2 separate regions of the Homo sapiens genome follow, and region 2 is linked to region 1. Evidence: fine-mapped expression QTL. Tissue or cell type: whole blood. Region 1 holds a variant in brackets; the other region holds the start of a gene. All regions are shown on one strand. Distances are between the middles of the regions.

Region 1 (8,095 bases):
GGACAGTGAGACAATATTTATCTCAACAACATTTGAACATTCAACAATGTTCATTGAGTGTCACATCTGGTTTCGCAAGCCATTCTAGGCAGTGGGGATAGAGCTGTGAGCAAGGCAGAAAAGGATCTTAACTTTCTGGAAATTATATTCTAGTGGGGAATGAAAGACAATAAGCAACCCAAATCATATCAGACAGTGGTAAGGATTATCAAGACAATTAAAATAAGACCAACTAATGAAGGATGACTGGGTGGCTCCTTAGAATGGGTGGTCAGAGAAGTTCTCCTTGAGGAGGTAACATGTAAACTGAGAAATGAATGATGAGGCAGAGCCAGCCAAGTGAAGATGAGGGTAAAAGCATCCCAGGAAAAGGAGTCAGCTATGCAAAGGTCTTGAGTGGAAAAGCAGATGTTTGGATGGTGTCGGTGGAGAGTATTAAGCAAGGAGATTGGGAGATGAAGTCAGAAAGGCAACAGGGGCCGAGTCACTCTGTAATCCCCAGTAAGGAGTGTGGATGTTTATTCCAAGTGCCATGGGAATTCACTGAAGAGTTTTAAGCCGAGGAGTGATGGAATCTGATTTTTGCTTTAAAAAGATCATTAGTGGCCAGGCGTGATGGCTCACACCTGTAATCCCAGCACTTTGGGAGGCTGAGGTGGGTGGATCACTTGAGGTCAGGAGTTCAAGACCAGCGTGGCCAACATGGCAAAACCCTGTCTCTACTAAAAAATACAAAAATTAGCCAAGTTTGGTGGCGAGCACCTATAATCCCAGCTACTCAGGAGGTTGAGGCAGGGAGAATTGCTTGAACCTGGGAGGTGGAGGTTGCAGCCGAGATTGTGCCACTGCACTCCAGCCTGGGTGACAGAGCAAGACTTCATCTCAAAAAAAAAAAAAATTAGCTGCTGTTGTAAGAATGCATTGTAGTAGGTAAGAATGAACGCCCTTCCTGTACTAATGCAATTGTCCCTCTAGGTATGTCACTTAACACAAGAGTACCAACCTTGCAAGTGAAATACACCTAGAGTCTTCCTTGTTTTTACCCTCCCTGACCCCCGAACTCCGCTGGGTCTGTATTTTTCCTTTTCTTCTTTTTGCTTTTTAGCAATAGGAGTCTCACTATGTTGCCCAGGCTGGAATGCAGTGGCTATTCACAGGTGAGATCATAGCACACCACAGCCTTAAACTCCTGGGCTCAAGTGATCCTCCTGGGTTTTTTGTTTGTTTTGTTTTGTTTTGTTTTTTTAGAGGTCTCACTCTGTTGCCCAGGCTGGAGAGCAGTGGTGTAATCATAGCTCACTATATCCTCGAACTCCTGGGCTCAAGCGATCCTCCTGTCTCAGCCTTCCAAAGTGCTGGGATTACAGGCGTGAGCCAGCGCACCTGGTCCAGGCCTGTGTTTTCTAAACCCCGATGTTACATTTCAGATTAAGAACTTCACCTTCTAGGCATCTTTTGCTGCTGCCCAAAAATGAGCAAGTAGGAATGAGCATGCAGGAGTGCAGGAGACCTGACGTTGGCATATGCAAGCGGCCAGATGGAGGCTGCTATATTCAGGAAAAGTGTTCATGGCTGGGAGTGAGCACCGGAAGGAAAGAGCATCTCAATTCCTAACCTGGTCTAGTCTGCCAGGTGAACTGCTGAAGCCTATTTGCTGAAGGAATACCTTCCACGCTTAGCCTCCAATCTTTAGGGCAGGGGTAGGTAGGATATTCTCATCAGTTATGCCAAGAATCTTTTATAGCTTTGATTTCCTGATTGTGTATACAAAATTGTTTAGTTTTTAAACTTTTCCAGTTAAACAAGAAATGAGGAATGTAAAATTTTTACCTTGGCCAAGATTTTCTTATTTCAGGTCCCTAGAAAGCTGAGTATTGAACTTTGCCCCAGATATCAAAAACTCTGGTCAACATTTACAAATTCTCTCCCTAAAAAGACTAGATCCTGCTTCCTATATTCACTTAGCTATTACCTTAAGAACTGCTAGCAACTGGGCATATTAACTTTCTAATATCAGGAACAGCCTCTATGTGGCGCTAGCTATGTTTACGACTATGCACACCCCTTATATGTGTGTCTCAGTTATAGCTTCTTAAAGTCTTCTCATCATAATCTTAAAATCTAGGATGTTTGTAAATTTTCTTTACTTGTTAAGCTAAACATTATAAAAAAAAGAACTACTTTAGAGATTGTGCTGAATGGGAGCAGATGCCCCTCCCTACCCCACCAGCTGTACTTCTACCTGTGCTTCCACCATTAGAGTATCCACCTGCTGGGTTTGTTTGCTGATGTATCCCTAACACCTAGAACAGAACCTGGCACATAGTAGACACTCAGTAAACATTTACTGAGTGAGAGGTTGAATGGATCAGATTTTGACCTGTGTTGCCTCCTGCCAGGACCCCATCTGCACTATAATGCCCACCCAATGACCAGCATCTCCAGTGCATCAATTTCTTTAGGCCCAACCCATCATGTTTACATTCTGAAGAGAGTCAGTAGAGAGAGTTTTGAAGACACAGTAGAGTGCCCTATACAATTATCTTCCCAGATTTATCTGCAGTAGATCCATGAGAGTTGATAGTAGACCCATGCACATTAATGCTTGCTGGGGGCAGAAGGGGAGGTGATATGATGCAAGCAAGTACTTTCAACCCTAAGTCTGAAAAGTTGATGACTACACAAAATCACTTCAGGTAACTCCAACAGAAATATACACAACGGAGGTTGGGAGAAATGAGAGATCTGGAGGCTGGCTAGGTGGAGGAGGCAACACCTGAATTAGGGATTTAAGCTAGACCTTGAAGAATAGGTCATGCCATCACACTAACAAACTCACAGGGAGGCTCCCAAATTTTGGGAAAGTGTCCCCCAGAGACTTAGACTTTTAAACCAAAGCCTAATGTTTCACAAAGTCTTCTGAGACAGAATGATTAGCAAGCTTGTAGGACCTTTTTGTAAAGAGGATGTATATGGATTCGTACAGACACACATCTACATGCAGAACGTGCCATTCTGTATTTGATGCATAAAACCACCTTGTCCCGGTCTCAGGGCAGGAACAGTGTCATACAGATTTTTGTGTCTCCACTGCTTTTGCATAGCGGCTCTTAGAGATTAAACGCTTTTTTTCCAAATATTTTATAGGTTTTTTGACATTAAAACGTTAGTCTCATCTGGGTGCGGTGGCACACGCCAGTAATCCCAGTACTTTGGGAGGCAGAGGCAAGAAGATCGCTTGAGCCCTGAAGTTGGAGACCACAGTGAGCTATGATCACACCACTGCACTCCTGTGACAGCCTGGGTGACACCGCAAGACCCTGTCTTAAAAAAAAAAAAAGTTAGACTTATGTTCTTTTCTAAGCAATAAAATTAGTCTTAGATATTGCCTAATATCTAAGACTACCAATTTTTGTGTAGAATGTAATACAAGCTAAAAAATACATTCGAAAGACTTTCTGTCCCCCAATTTATAAATCCTGGTTAGTTTAGCTAAGTCTGCAGTTGTGCTGGGATCAGCAATCCCTCCTTAAATGCAGGAGTATTGTGAGTGTGATGAGGGACTACCCCAAATCAAAATAATTTTAAAAGCAAACCTTAGCTTGCTAATTGGTTCCACTTTCTTCCTTGTTCCTTTTCCTTTACCAAGATGGCCGCTGTGTCGTTCGCTCCTCATTGGTCGGATTTTCCGCAGGTGCCGATTCTAGCCCCACCTACTAGCTCTCCGTTCCAAGTCCTAAATCACTGGGAATGTAATAGACAGACGAACGGGAGTGGGCGGAGCGGGCGCCGGATGTGACGTTTCCGGAACCTCCGGGTGTCATCCGCGGGGAAAGGTGGGGAAGGGTCCCGGGAACGTGGTGGGGCAGGGCCTCCGAGCGTGGTTGGACTTTGAAGGGGATCGGCCGCCGTGAGTGTGGGGCCTGCAGCCTACTCTCCCCGAGTCCCCTGCCCGGCCTGCCTCGCTCGAGGCACCCGACGGCTTCTGTCTCCGCGGGCTGGCGCCTGACCAGCCAGGCCCAGCGGTTCCCCGCCTACTGCATTTGAAAGATCCCGAAAACCCTGGATGATTGTGCCTGGGGTTGGCAAGTTCGTCTTGAGTGCCTTCAAGAAGGGTTCCTCAAGCAGTTGTCGATAGAGCCCTCCCTACTGTATACGCCCCCTCCGCTCATTCCTGCTACTTCCTTTCTCCTCCTCGTATTTCCCCCTCGGTCCTTTACGCCGCCTTTCCCCCTCATTTGCAGATGCTGCAT[C/T]CCCTTTTTGGAATTGCTCAACCAGGTGGTAACCGGCGCCGCTTCCTGGCCTTGGGAGGTGGTTCCTTTCTTAACCCACAAGAACCTCTCCCAAGAGGTACTGAGATGCAACAAGCATCCTCTGTTTCAGTTAACTTTCATGGGCCGTGGACTAGGTTTACTAATTACTTGGGGAGGTTTTAGATATGCTTGCGGCTTTCTGAGTCCCTAAGGAGGCCTCGTGAGAGATGGACTATCTCTGCATCCCTAGTAGTCCTCACGGCTTTTGTGCTATTAGTGAGGGTGTTTTAGAGGGGAAGGTTTGTGGAGGAATTGTGACCCGAATATTGAAGAGACCTAAAGATGGAATTGGCTGAGAGAAGACTACCCCTGAGGGAAGAGTTGTAGTAGAAAAGAAAAACTGGATAGATAAATGAAACTGAAATGTGAGGATGCCTGGGCGGATTGGAATCCTGACTGAAGCAAAAGATCTCTGTTGGGGAGGGCCAGTTGCCACAGGGCCTTGAATTCCAAGATTTATTCTACTGTAGTTTGTGTATTCTAGAGCATACTGATTAGGGTTTGCTGTAATGCAATGTGTGTCAAATGCCCAGTTTTATTTTGGAGATGATAGTGGTGATATCTGGTTGGAATTTGGAATCTGATTCTAACAGCAACTATATCTAGAAAGACTAGAATTACTGGAGTTTTGGGACACCAGGGGTTTTTGCAATGCAAGTTACCATCGTGCCTTTTTGTTATTCAGTGTTTAGTCTATGAAGATGAGTAAATGGTTGTTTTCAAGATTTAAGTCTCTTGCCATGATAATGATGAATGAATGATTTTATAGATTGACTATAGTGGTTTAGTGAGCAGAGTTACAATTATGAGCATTAATTCCCAGACCAGTTCCCCTAACTCACCTTGTGCTCAAATATGAAAAAGGATACCACAGAAAATGTCAGTTACTCTCAGATTAAGTAAAAATGGTCAACCTTGAAGTTAGTTAACAATCCTCAAGAAAGTTCACTGAGTGCACTCTGCCAGGTACTGGGGTGGAGGTATGTGGGTATCTGGAAGGAGAAATAATAGAAAATAAAAGATGCTGTTCCCACTTTTACAGTGCTGTGGGCGGAGCCCCCTAATGGCAAAGGATTTGATTAACTTGAACTGAACCTTTGGTTGGTCCACTGTGGTTCTACTCCTTATACCACCTAATTATGGTACAGGGGTTGTATGTTTTCTAGTCTGCCAGTACTCTCATCGTTGTGATTTGGGCTTCCTTGAGGGTCTCAGCCTTCTTGTAGGAAAGTCCTTATTTAATAGGAGCCACAGCATTTGGTATGTTTCTCTTATATTTTCTTCTTAAGGTAGAGGTCTGTGAGATAAACTGTAAAACTGCTGGGATGATGAGGGCAACGGTATTGATGCCATCTGTTTTTTCTGTCTCAGAACTTGGTCCTGATGTCTGACCATGGAGATGTGAGCCTCCCGCCCGAAGACCGGGTGAGGGCTCTCTCCCAGCTGGGTAGTGCGGTAGAGGTGAATGAAGACATTCCACCCCGTCGGTACTTCCGCTCTGGAGTTGAGATTATCCGAATGGCATCCATTTACTCTGAGGAAGGCAACATTGAACATGCCTTCATCCTCTATAACAAGTATATCACGTAAGACACCTACAGTTTCCTTTTTCCTTTCTGGTGACTGGTGCCTCGCCTATTTGGCTCAGAATTGCTAAAACCACAGAACTTCACAATATCATCAACATTAATCATTTTTGCTGGCAACTCCTACATATTGGCTGTCCTTGCCGTTCAAAGACATGAGTGCTGAAGGTGTTATTTTCATGACTCAGTAATTTATGAGTAAGAGATTTAGTTCTTTGGCCTATGCCCACATAGCCCAGCTGTTAGACAAAAGAGTTGGTGGTTAAACTAGACATATTATGTTCTGATGAATGCTTTTACTGTTCTCTTTCTACTAAAGCAGCCAATCATAGGATTATTGTTGGGGTCTAGCAGAGCCAAAATTCCTCACTTGTACTTATTTTGTAGCAAATTTAGTGATACAGGAAAAAATTTTTTCCTCTTAACCTTTATCATAATCATGCAAATCATCAAATAATTAGTAACTGCCTACAGTTTGTGTGGCTCATCATAATAAGACCTTTCCCTTAAGTTATTTATCATCTTAGGGTAGGCAGCATAAGTAGAAGATTTCAGTACTATTAACAGCAAACAACTTCTAAAACTCCATTGACAATGATACATAATTTAGAAAGGAAATAATGTTAAAGGTCTTATTTATCATTTCTAATCTTGTTCTTTCACAATATCAGGACTTTTTAAAAAATAATTATAATGTATTTGGTTCTGAGTAGCTCATAGTGTGTTTCACCTGCATAATTTCATTTGATCTTCACAGTTCTGTGTGCATGGAATAGGGTACACTACCCTACATTCTACATATGAGGAAACAAACTCAGTGTTTGGTGGATGCTCATGTTTGAAGTGACAAAACCTTGGTTTTCTGACTCCTAATTCAGGATTTGTTCTACAACATAGGTCCTGTTCTTCTTGTTTTCCATTTAGTAATGTTCTAGAGTCAGAGGTAGTCTTTTGAGATCATAGTCATGAGCCACACTGGCTATTTTTTTGTTATTTATTTTACTACTGATTTTTGAGTAGGTAACATATATATATATATATATATATATACACATATATATGGTGCACAATTCAGAGGCACAAAAGAATAACTATAGTTAAAAAGTAAGTCTTGGCCAGGCGCAGTGGCTCTCGCCTGTAATCCCAGCACTTTGGGAGGCCAGGGCAGGCGGATCACCTGAGGTCAAGAGTTCAAGACCAGCTTGGCCAACATGGCAAAACCCCATCTCTACTAAAAATACAAAAATTAGTCGGGCATGGTGGCGTGTGCCTGTAATCCCAGCTACTTGGGAGGCTAAGGCAGGAGAATCGCTTGAAACCAGGAGGCAGAGGTTGTAGTGAGCCGAGATCGTGCCACTGCACTCCAGGACTCCAGACTAGGTGGCAAAGCGAGACTGTTTCAAAAAAAAAAAAAAAAGTCTCCCCACCCACTCCTCTTTTCCCCCCAAACCCTCAGTGCTTCTCCCCAGAGACAACCACTCTTAGTAGTTTCTTAGATATCTTCCAAGAGATGATATACACATACCAGTTTTATCACATTAAGTTTTTGATCACATACTCCTCTAAAGCAGGGCTTTTCAACTTTGGCCCTATTGACCTTTTGGACTGAATCATTATTTGTGGTGGGAGCTGTCCTGTGTGTCACAGAATGTTTAGCAGCATCCCTGGTTTCTGCTCACCAGATGCCAGTATCCCCCCTCCCCGCAGTGTGACAACCAAAAATGTCACCAGACATTATCTGATGTTCTCCCAGGGGCAGAATCACCTCTGAGAACCAGTGCTCCAAAGGAAAGTATGCGGAAGAATGGACTGTCTAGGATTCATATTGTAATTGTAGAGTGGAGAAATGGGACTGCTATTGTCTTTTTTATTTAGAAGTGTTGCCTGTGTTAAGAGGAGAAAACCTTAGACAAGTTAAATTTAACAGAGTTTAATCCAGTAGAAAAAGGTTCAGGGAACACTCAGGACCAAAAGTGGTGCAGAATGTTCCACCCCATAGTGGAGGTTGTGCAGGCTATATTTATAGTCAGAGAAAAGGAAATGAGATACAGAAATAGCCTGATTGGCTACAGTTATGTGTTTGCCTTATTTGGTCATGTTTTGGCAGGCTTTAGCCTCCAATTGGCTGGAGGTTTCAGCTGCTATGATTGGCTGAGACTCAGCTATTTGTTACACTTGTAACCTAACTCTTATGTT
Region 2 (8,102 bases), 150 kb after region 1:
ATACACCCTGTCAACCAAGGCTCAGGGGCACCAAGGCCTTTATCCCTGTTGGGTATTCCTTCCATTATGATGGGTACCCTTGCATTCTCCTTGCAAGTAATGAAGCCTATTTGATTCAAAAAATTCAAAATGCAGTCACAAAACTAGTTATAAAACATGAGGACATTTGCGGGGCTATTGAAAAACGTAGTAGCCGGGCGCGGTGGCTCACTCATGTAATCCCAGCAGTTTGGGAGGTCGAGGTGGGTGGATCATGAGGTCAGGAGTTCAAGACCAGTCTCTACTAAAACTACAAAAATTAGCTGGGCGCGGTGGCAGGTGCCTGTAATCCCAGCTACTCGAGAGTCTGAGGCAGGAGAATCATTTGAACCTGGGCAGCAGAGGTTACAGTGAGCCCAGATCGCGCCACTGCACTTCAGCCTGGGTGACAAGAGTGAGACTCCATCTCAAAGAAAAAAAAAAAACCAAAACCCAAAACCAAAACAAAACAAAAAACCCAAAAACGCATAGCATAGATATCCTACACGTGTCACACTCACCAATGCAGGTCCACAAGCAACCCACTAATGAACCTCCCTTTCCCTGAGAGCAAAATGCCAGCTTCTGCCTGGTATCAGCTCTAGCATTCGTGGGCTAATTTCAGAGGTCCTGGATTGTAGGTCCTGGATTCTGACATGTAGTAGTGAATGACCTTGGACAAATTACCTCACTGAGCGCCAGTTCTCTTATCTGTAAAATGGTGATGATAATAAAAACTATGTCATAGATAAGGAAAGTTAACATTTGCACATTTGTTGTATTTGCCACTCTGTGCAGACAGAAGGATAATGTGTGTGGAAGTGCTTTGAAAAGGGAAAGATCTATGCAAATATTAGTTGATAATATTTTTAGCCAATACATGACCAAAGAAGTAATACATCCAAAATCAAATAAACCTCCCAATACCTTCAGTCTTTAAAACCAAGCCCAGGTATGGATATCGGGATGTATTTACATTTCTGCAAAAGGTCCCCATACGCAAATCTCATTCTTAAATAAGGACAAATTACTCATTAGCTGAAGAGGAGAGAGGTCAAGTACCTGAGGAGGTTAGTCACATCAATCACCTGAGAGTTCAGCAGCATCCAACAGTGTTAGTTCCACGTGTTAACTTCCTGAAGAACCACAGGCTTGCACATCCAATTATGCTTCCTGTCCCTTTCCTCCCCCGTGCGGAATCAACTTCAGCTCATCAATGGGGTAGGAAAGCCTCCTTATTTCGCACCCTCCATGCTCCAGGCATCCAGGGAAATGCCCCTGCCACCCCTATCTCCCTTGAGTTCTTAGGGCTTCCTCCTCTAGCAAGGAGATTTCCCTTTCTAGTCCCGGGGGCAGCGGCACAGCCCGGCTCTGACCTCGCGGGAGCAGTCGCCTAAAAGAGGCTCCGCCCTTGGCCGCTTGGGGTGGCGCCCGCCAAACCCGCTCCTAAAAGGAGCCTCTCTCCCTCTGTCTGCTCTAAGCGCCTTGGGGGCCTAATCGCAGTCTCCACCTGGGTGCTGAACTTCCTTCTCCCCCGCTTGCTGTAGTCCAGTGCTGCTCTAACTTGACTTCACCTGACGGACTAATTAAAACAGATTGCTGGGCCCGCCCCCAGGGTTTCTGATTCAGTGGGGTTAGGATGGGGCCGAGAGCTTGCATTTCTAGCCAGTTCCCAGGAGATGGTGATGCTGCTGGTGCCGGGGCTCTCTTGGCGGAACCACTGCGTCTAGGCTAATGCAGCCCCAGGAAGGGCTCGCCCTATCCCTACGCCCACCCCCGCTGCTCTCCTGCCCTGAGCGCAATGTGAATGGGAATAGCCGCAGCAGCCCAGGAGGCTGGAGAACCAGAAGGCAGGACCTGAGGAGTTTAGGCTGTTTTATCTTGGGCGCCCCTGACCAGTTTGTGCAAGTCGTAAAGAAAGCAGGAAAGAAGCCTATGGGTCTTCAGTGTTACTGGGGTCTGTCATTCATTAGGGTCTACTCACCTCGTCTCTTCATTCAACACAGTGGTTGGTTGCTAGGTCTAGGGTTATGAGGTGAAAGACAGCGTGCTACCCTTCCAGGAGTTTGTAGTAACTGGGAAAGAAACATGCAAACCATTCCAGTGCCCAGCGCCGATGAGATAACTGTTCCTAGGCAGGGAGAGTCAAACTTCTGTGGAGGGAGAGTGGGTGGGGCTCTGGAATCATCTGAGCAGCTGGAGGTTTCATGGAACTGGCACTTATGACTTGCAGGATGAGTGGGAATTTGGCAGGTACAAGGGGTAGCTGAGAAGGGGTGGGGTGGGAAGGGTTTTTCCCCAGGCAGAAGGAATGAGCAACAGGACTGCCGAAGTGTAAGGTTCCAGAGGCCGGGAAGATATGACAGGCAGCTCTCTAGCCTGGCTGGGTTCCCTCCAACCTCTCTGGCGGCGCCTTCTCAGCTCCTGTCCCTCATGGGCTGGTATTCCCTGGGGCTCTGTCCTGGCAGCCTTTCCCTCTCACACTCCATATCCACCCTGGATGAGCTCCTCCACAACTGAGGCCTCGCTGTCTGCTCACTGATGGGGCCCAAATCTCAAACCCAGGCCTCACCCCCTCAGTTGCACACTCACTTTCACACGAATGTCTCCATCCCCAGGCATCCTTCCTTCTGCATTTTGTCACAGTGAATGGCACCAGCATTCACCCAGTTACCTAAACGAGAGGGCTTTATGAAATGACCCTCTCATAGATTGCTGGCAAAGAGTAAATGACACAGTAACTTGCTGGTGCCATTTACCCAGACAGAATACAAGAGGATGGCTGCTGGGCTCCTCTGAAAGTCCACAACTTACTAGCTGAGTGATCCTGGGCAAGTTATTTAATCTGTTTTCTTATCCATAAAATGGGTTTGATGATAGTACCTACCTCACAAGGTTGTCATATGGATTAAACAATATTAGTTGTTGTCATTCATTGAGCCCTATATTAAGTCTTTTACTTGGATTCCCTTGAAGATGGAGTACCTAGTCCAAGGTCACACTGTTACCAAGTGGCAGATTCAGGTTTGGAAGCCAGAGTTCTCTGGCTCCTGAGCCATCTTCTTCACCTCACTGTCACACTTTCTGAAAACTGTATACCAAACAGGGAAATGCCTATGGTACAATGTTAAGTTAAAAGAGGATGGCAAATTGTATAATCAGTGTGAGTAAATCCACAAATAGGAAAGGCTACAAGGAAATATAGCAAATGGTTAAATATGGTTGTAATTTGGTGATTTTTCCCCTCTAGTATCTGTAGTCTCCACGTCTTCTTTATACACATTTTTTATTAATAAAGTTGCTTATTAAAAATATATTACATTAAAAACAATTACGAGTCTGCAACCTGTTCCCCTGTTTGAAAATTGCACTCTCTTGGTTTTTCGTCTCGGTTCTAGTCTTACTACCCTGAACAGAAACTCTTCAGTCCTCCCAAAGGCCATGGTAGGAAGTGGATATTGCAGCCATGTTCACCCCCACCCACTCCCTCGCTGACAACCTGGACCCTGGAGCAGGCTGTCAAAATCAGAGGGAAGTTCCAGATAGAACCCGGGCTGCTTTACCGCCTAGGGCTTTCTGGACAGCGCTACTTCAGATCAGTTACTTTTTTTTCTTTCTTTCTAAATAGCCGGCCGAATGCTCTTTTTCCAGTTCTGGCTAAGCTGTTAGCTGCAGCCGGGCGGCGACGCCTGCCAGGTACCTGGCTCCGTGAGCACCGCCCAAACTGGTCAGGCCAGTCCGTCCTGTGGCTGTTTCTGCCAGGACTCGCCCGAGTGTGTGTGTGCGCGTGTATGTCAGAGACCCACCCTGCTCCCCTGCAACCGAGGTAGGTGGAAGGCAGTTGCAGGCACCAGCCTGGCAGTCAGGCCAGATGGGTGGGGCTGAATTAATCTAACCTGGAATTTCAACTTGGCCTGCACAACAGGTGAGGGAAAAAAGCAGCAGAGAGAACGGGCAGTTTGGCAACTTGGAAATATTCCTGAGCCCTGCCCCTTACCCCCTGCCTGGAACGTAGCCCAGGGTGACTCTTCAAAGTGTCTGCGCCGGGTTTTAGGGCTTAGTCGCCCCACGGCCCCCTCGAGGCTGTCCGAGGCCCTCCTGAACGCTGTCCTCCTCAGTTACCCTCCGCGACGCGCCCGTTCCCCCTCCTCTGGGAGGCAGGGCGGGGGTATCGGATTAGTCTTTGTTTTCGACGCGAAAGAATCGAGCGCGGCGCGGGGGAGGCTGGTGATGGCAGGGCCGTGGGGTCCACCTGGACAGGGCATTCGGCCGTGACCCCTGCGAGGGTGCCCTTAGCCTCTGCCCCCGAGCAACCCCTTCTTGCCGGCCAGGCTGACTCGGTACGCAAACGCGCGATGTCCCCCATTGTCCTGCCTCGGAATGAGCCAGCGGCAGCTGGGACAGGGGGGTCAGTCGGGCCCGGCGCTCAGGCCTCCCGGGGGCGCCGGGGCTGTCCCGGACAGATCTGGCCCGCAGGGAGTGGCAGGAAGTGGGGACACCGAGCGAGGCTCGGCCGAGGGCCTAGGCTGGAAGGTCCGCGTGCCCCACCCCGCCTCGCCGGCCCCGGCTGCAGCCCCGCCGGAGGGCGAGGGTGGCCAACCCGAAGGGGGCGGCCGCCTCCCGGGAGGGCCGACCGCGTGGGTGGGAGCCACTGCAGGTGCAGAGAAGCGGCGGCCGGGCCGGAGCCTGCCCCAAGCCGCTCGCAGGCCGCCCACCCGACCCCTCCCCTCCGCGGGAACCACCCCCCTCTCGCCCGGCCCGGGGCCCGGCCGGGCCGGCGGGGCTCGGCGGGGCCGCACGTGTGCGCCCTCCCGGGCGGGGGAGTCCCCGGGCGAGCACGTGCCGCGGTGCGCGGGGGGCGGGGAGTCCCGCGGACGCCTTCATTGCTGCTGCTGCTGCCGCCGCGGCCGCCGCTGCCTCTTCCTTCCTCCTGCGCCGTCCCCTCCTCGGCCCGGGCGGGGGGCTCCGCGCGCTGAGCTCGGTCGGGCCGGGCGCTCCGGGAGGCGGGAGCCCCAGGCGGCGGCGGCGGCGGCCGCGACGGTGGTGGCGGCGGCGGCGCGGGCCGGGAAACTTTGCCCCTTTGTGCGCTCCGCCCCGGAGGCGGCGGGCAGGTCGGTGCAGTCGGTGCCTTTCCGGCTCCGGAGTGGGGGAGGGGCGGCGGGAGGCGCGGGGGGCCCGGCCCGGGGGAGGGGGAGGGGACGGCCCGGATCCGGCGGGGGGCCGCTCCTCCGGTGCGGGGGGCCGGACTGGGGTGCTGCGGGGCGCTGTGCGGCTGAGCCGGGCGGGGGTGGCGGGGCGGGGGCGGGGGCTGCGAAGCCGCCGGAGCGGAGTGGCGGAGGCCCCAGAACAAAGGAGCCCGAGCGGCGGCGCGCGCGCGGCCCGGCCCGCGGCTCGAGCGCGCCCCCCTCCCCGCGCCCCTCGGCGGCGCGGGCCGCCCTCCCCAGTCGGGCTGGCGGGCTGCGCTCCGGCGGCGGGCGCGGCGGGCGCGGGCTGCCCAGGGCGCGCCCCCACCTCCAGGCGGCTTCCGTGCCGGGGGCGCCGGGGCAGTCCCGCCGAGCGAGGCTCTCAGCAAACTTTATTTTGAAAGCTCAGCTCCCTAGGGAGGGCCCGGCGGCCTCCAGCCAGGGCGTGTGGGGGAATTTTGGTGAAACTCTCACCAGCCCGTGGGGGTGGGGAAGAGGGCAACTTTCTTAGAAATCTCACCTTGATCACCCCCTTGAATCCAGGGCCCCCAGCAGCCCTCAGGCCCGAGGCCGCCTCCCTCAGACAGGGAGCGGGTGCTGGGTGCGTCCTGCCTGAGGTTCTGGGCAGGACCTCAATTGAGCAAGCCCCATCTCTTCCCCCATTTTCTCTTCCCAGAAACAGGAAGAAGTGACACGTGAAAGTTGTCCCTGAGCCCCGAGTGATGCGCTTCCCCTTTCTGTCTTTTTCAGGCAGCACTGCCTTCTCCAGCGTCCAGACCCTGGAGGAAAAATACCAGGAGAAACTGCTCACTCAGCTCTGCCCCCACCACACCCCTACCTGCTCAACTCATGCCTGGGTCCAGGGTGGGTGAGGGTGAAGAACCCACCGGGCCAAGATGATCCCTTTTCTGAGGGCTGCTGCTGGTGTCCTCCCCCAGATCCTGGGCCCCAGCAGGTGGGAGAGTGGCCCCCTACGGAGTCCGATCAGACTGCTGCAGAGGAGGTGAAGAGGGGTTGAGAAGAGGCATCCATCCACGAGACTGAAGCCACTTGCCTTCACCCTTGTAGACTCTTGACTGTTCTAGGCGAGAAGGACCTGTTGGTGGCCTTTGGAGGTGGCAGGAAACGACTGTGGTTCTGCCCCAGCACCTATGACCCCACCTCTGGCAGCATCATGAGCCAGTTTCAGGTGCCCCTGGCCGTCCAGCCGGACCTGCCAGGCCTTTATGACTTCCCTCAGCGCCAGGTGATGGTAGGGAGCTTCCCGGGGTCTGGGCTCTCCATGGCTGGGAGTGAGTCCCAACTCCGAGGGGGTGGAGATGGTCGAAAGAAACGGAAACGGTGTGGTACTTGTGAGCCCTGCCGGCGGCTGGAAAACTGTGGCGCTTGCACTAGCTGTACCAACCGCCGCACGCACCAGATCTGCAAACTGCGAAAATGTGAGGTGCTGAAGAAAAAAGTAGGGCTTCTCAAGGAGGTAAGCCGGCCCTTGCTGGGCTACCCTGTTCCTTCCTCGAGGGCACGGTGATCACGGGGGTCTTGTTCAAGCAAGGCTCGTCCAGTTGAGTCCATTCTCTCATTTCTGATCCTCTTGGTCCAACTTTAAGTAGGAGTGTAACTGACATGTTTGGACTCCTTTGCAGGGCTGACAATTTGTATGAGTAACTGGGTAGAAGGGGGATCTGAGCTAGCACCCTCATCTCTGATGTTTGCATTTGAGGCGGGACTGTGATGTCTACCTTTACCTCTAGAAGTTTCTTGTCCTGCTGCTTGAAGCCTCAGATGTTGTATTTCAAGCTCATGCTAATGCTTGGATGACTTGGTCAGTGAGGGTGTAAGATAAGAGATGGAGGCTGATGGATTTGGAGACAAAGTTTTGGATTGACAGGGTGGTTTTATGATGCCCTGATGGAGTGGGATGTTTCTTTCATCGTTTTTCTCAGATGGCCAGAGAGCCAGTTGAAACTGTTGGGGAATCTAGTGACGAACTGATGTTTTGGGTTCCCCTATCTTAGTTCTTCTTGCGGTCAAAAACTTTATTTCTGTGTTCTCGGGACCTGGCACAATTCCTTGGCAGGTAGTAGGCACTCAGATACTAATTGCATGAATGGATGACATGCTTTTGAGACACTGTCAACCCCAGGGAGGTGTACTCCCTTTATTTGGGGTAGTAGGGTGGAGGAGGGAAGGAGATTTGGGGTGAGAGCAGGCAGGGTGGGAAGGAATGGGAGAGACCATGACCTTGCATTGGCCGTCTTTCCCTCCCATTATAGTGGCGGACTGCCGGCTTGAGGTTGGTGACAGCCGCGACAGCAGAGAGTTGGCAGAAGTAGGGCTGAGCGAAGTTGAGCAGCTTAGGAGGAGCGGTGTAGCCGCTGAGGTCGCTCCAGGCAGTAGAACTGGCGCTGGACAGAGACGGAGGCCTGCGCTGTCTTCGAGCTCCCCCTGGCTCTGCCATTCATTTGTCCAAGGGCCCAGACAACTCGGGCCCCCTCTCTGGGCCTGTCTTTTCCTTGGGGGAAGTGGAAGAGTTGTACTTGATGGCTTTCAAAGCCTCTTCCAGCTGGGCTGGGAGCTGCTTGCTTCTGAGGACTCGGGTCCCTGTGGCTGGCGTTGGGCTGGCAGCCCGTGCTCTGGGTTTCCCTGACCGCTGAGTGCAGAGCCTCACAGCGAGCTGGTGGGGCTGGTCCCGTGGCTAGGAAGAAAGATTCAAGTGTTGAGGACAGGGACATGGGGTTGCTGGATATTTCTGCCCCTTCTCACCTTGTCTTGTCCGTGCCTTGTGGAAGCTGTATGTCCTGACCCAGGGACTGCAGACTCGGGGCCCTGTTTCCCTTGTTTCTGGTTAAAGCAGACATCTGGATCACATATGCAGCCCCCAGCCCCAGCCTGGGAGACTTC

What was found. PIP is the estimated chance that this variant, and not a neighbour inherited with it, causes the effect.
Region 2: it holds the start of TET3, and the variant in region 1 is fine-mapped to the expression of TET3 in whole blood (TOPMed, PIP 0.96).

The regions. Positions count from the first base shown.
Region 1 is chr2:73,825,161-73,833,255 of GRCh38, forward strand. It overlaps STAMBP (STAM binding protein), which reads left to right and starts at 3,801. Exons shown (of 10, transcript NM_213622.4): 1 at 3,801-4,350; 2 at 5,685-5,899. The coding sequence starts at 5,697. LOC105374807 (a long non-coding RNA gene) reads right to left here and starts at 5,238. Exons shown (of 3, transcript XR_940246.3): 1 at 5,156-5,238; 2 at 3,597-3,744. RefSeq lists a silencer at 3,572-3,790 and enhancers at 5,298-6,497, 8,013-8,095. The variant C/T (reference allele first, on the strand shown) is at 4,254.
Region 2 is chr2:73,980,029-73,988,130 of GRCh38, forward strand. It overlaps TET3 (tet methylcytosine dioxygenase 3), which reads left to right and starts at 4,882. Exons shown (of 12, transcript NM_001287491.2): 1 at 4,882-5,129; 2 at 5,952-6,678. The coding sequence starts at 6,376. DGUOK-AS1 (DGUOK antisense RNA 1) reads right to left here and starts at 1,411. Exons shown (of 2, transcript NR_104030.1): 1 at 1,107-1,411. RefSeq lists enhancers at 3,258-4,181, 6,075-6,304 and silencers at 4,355-5,044, 4,803-5,001, 5,425-5,594.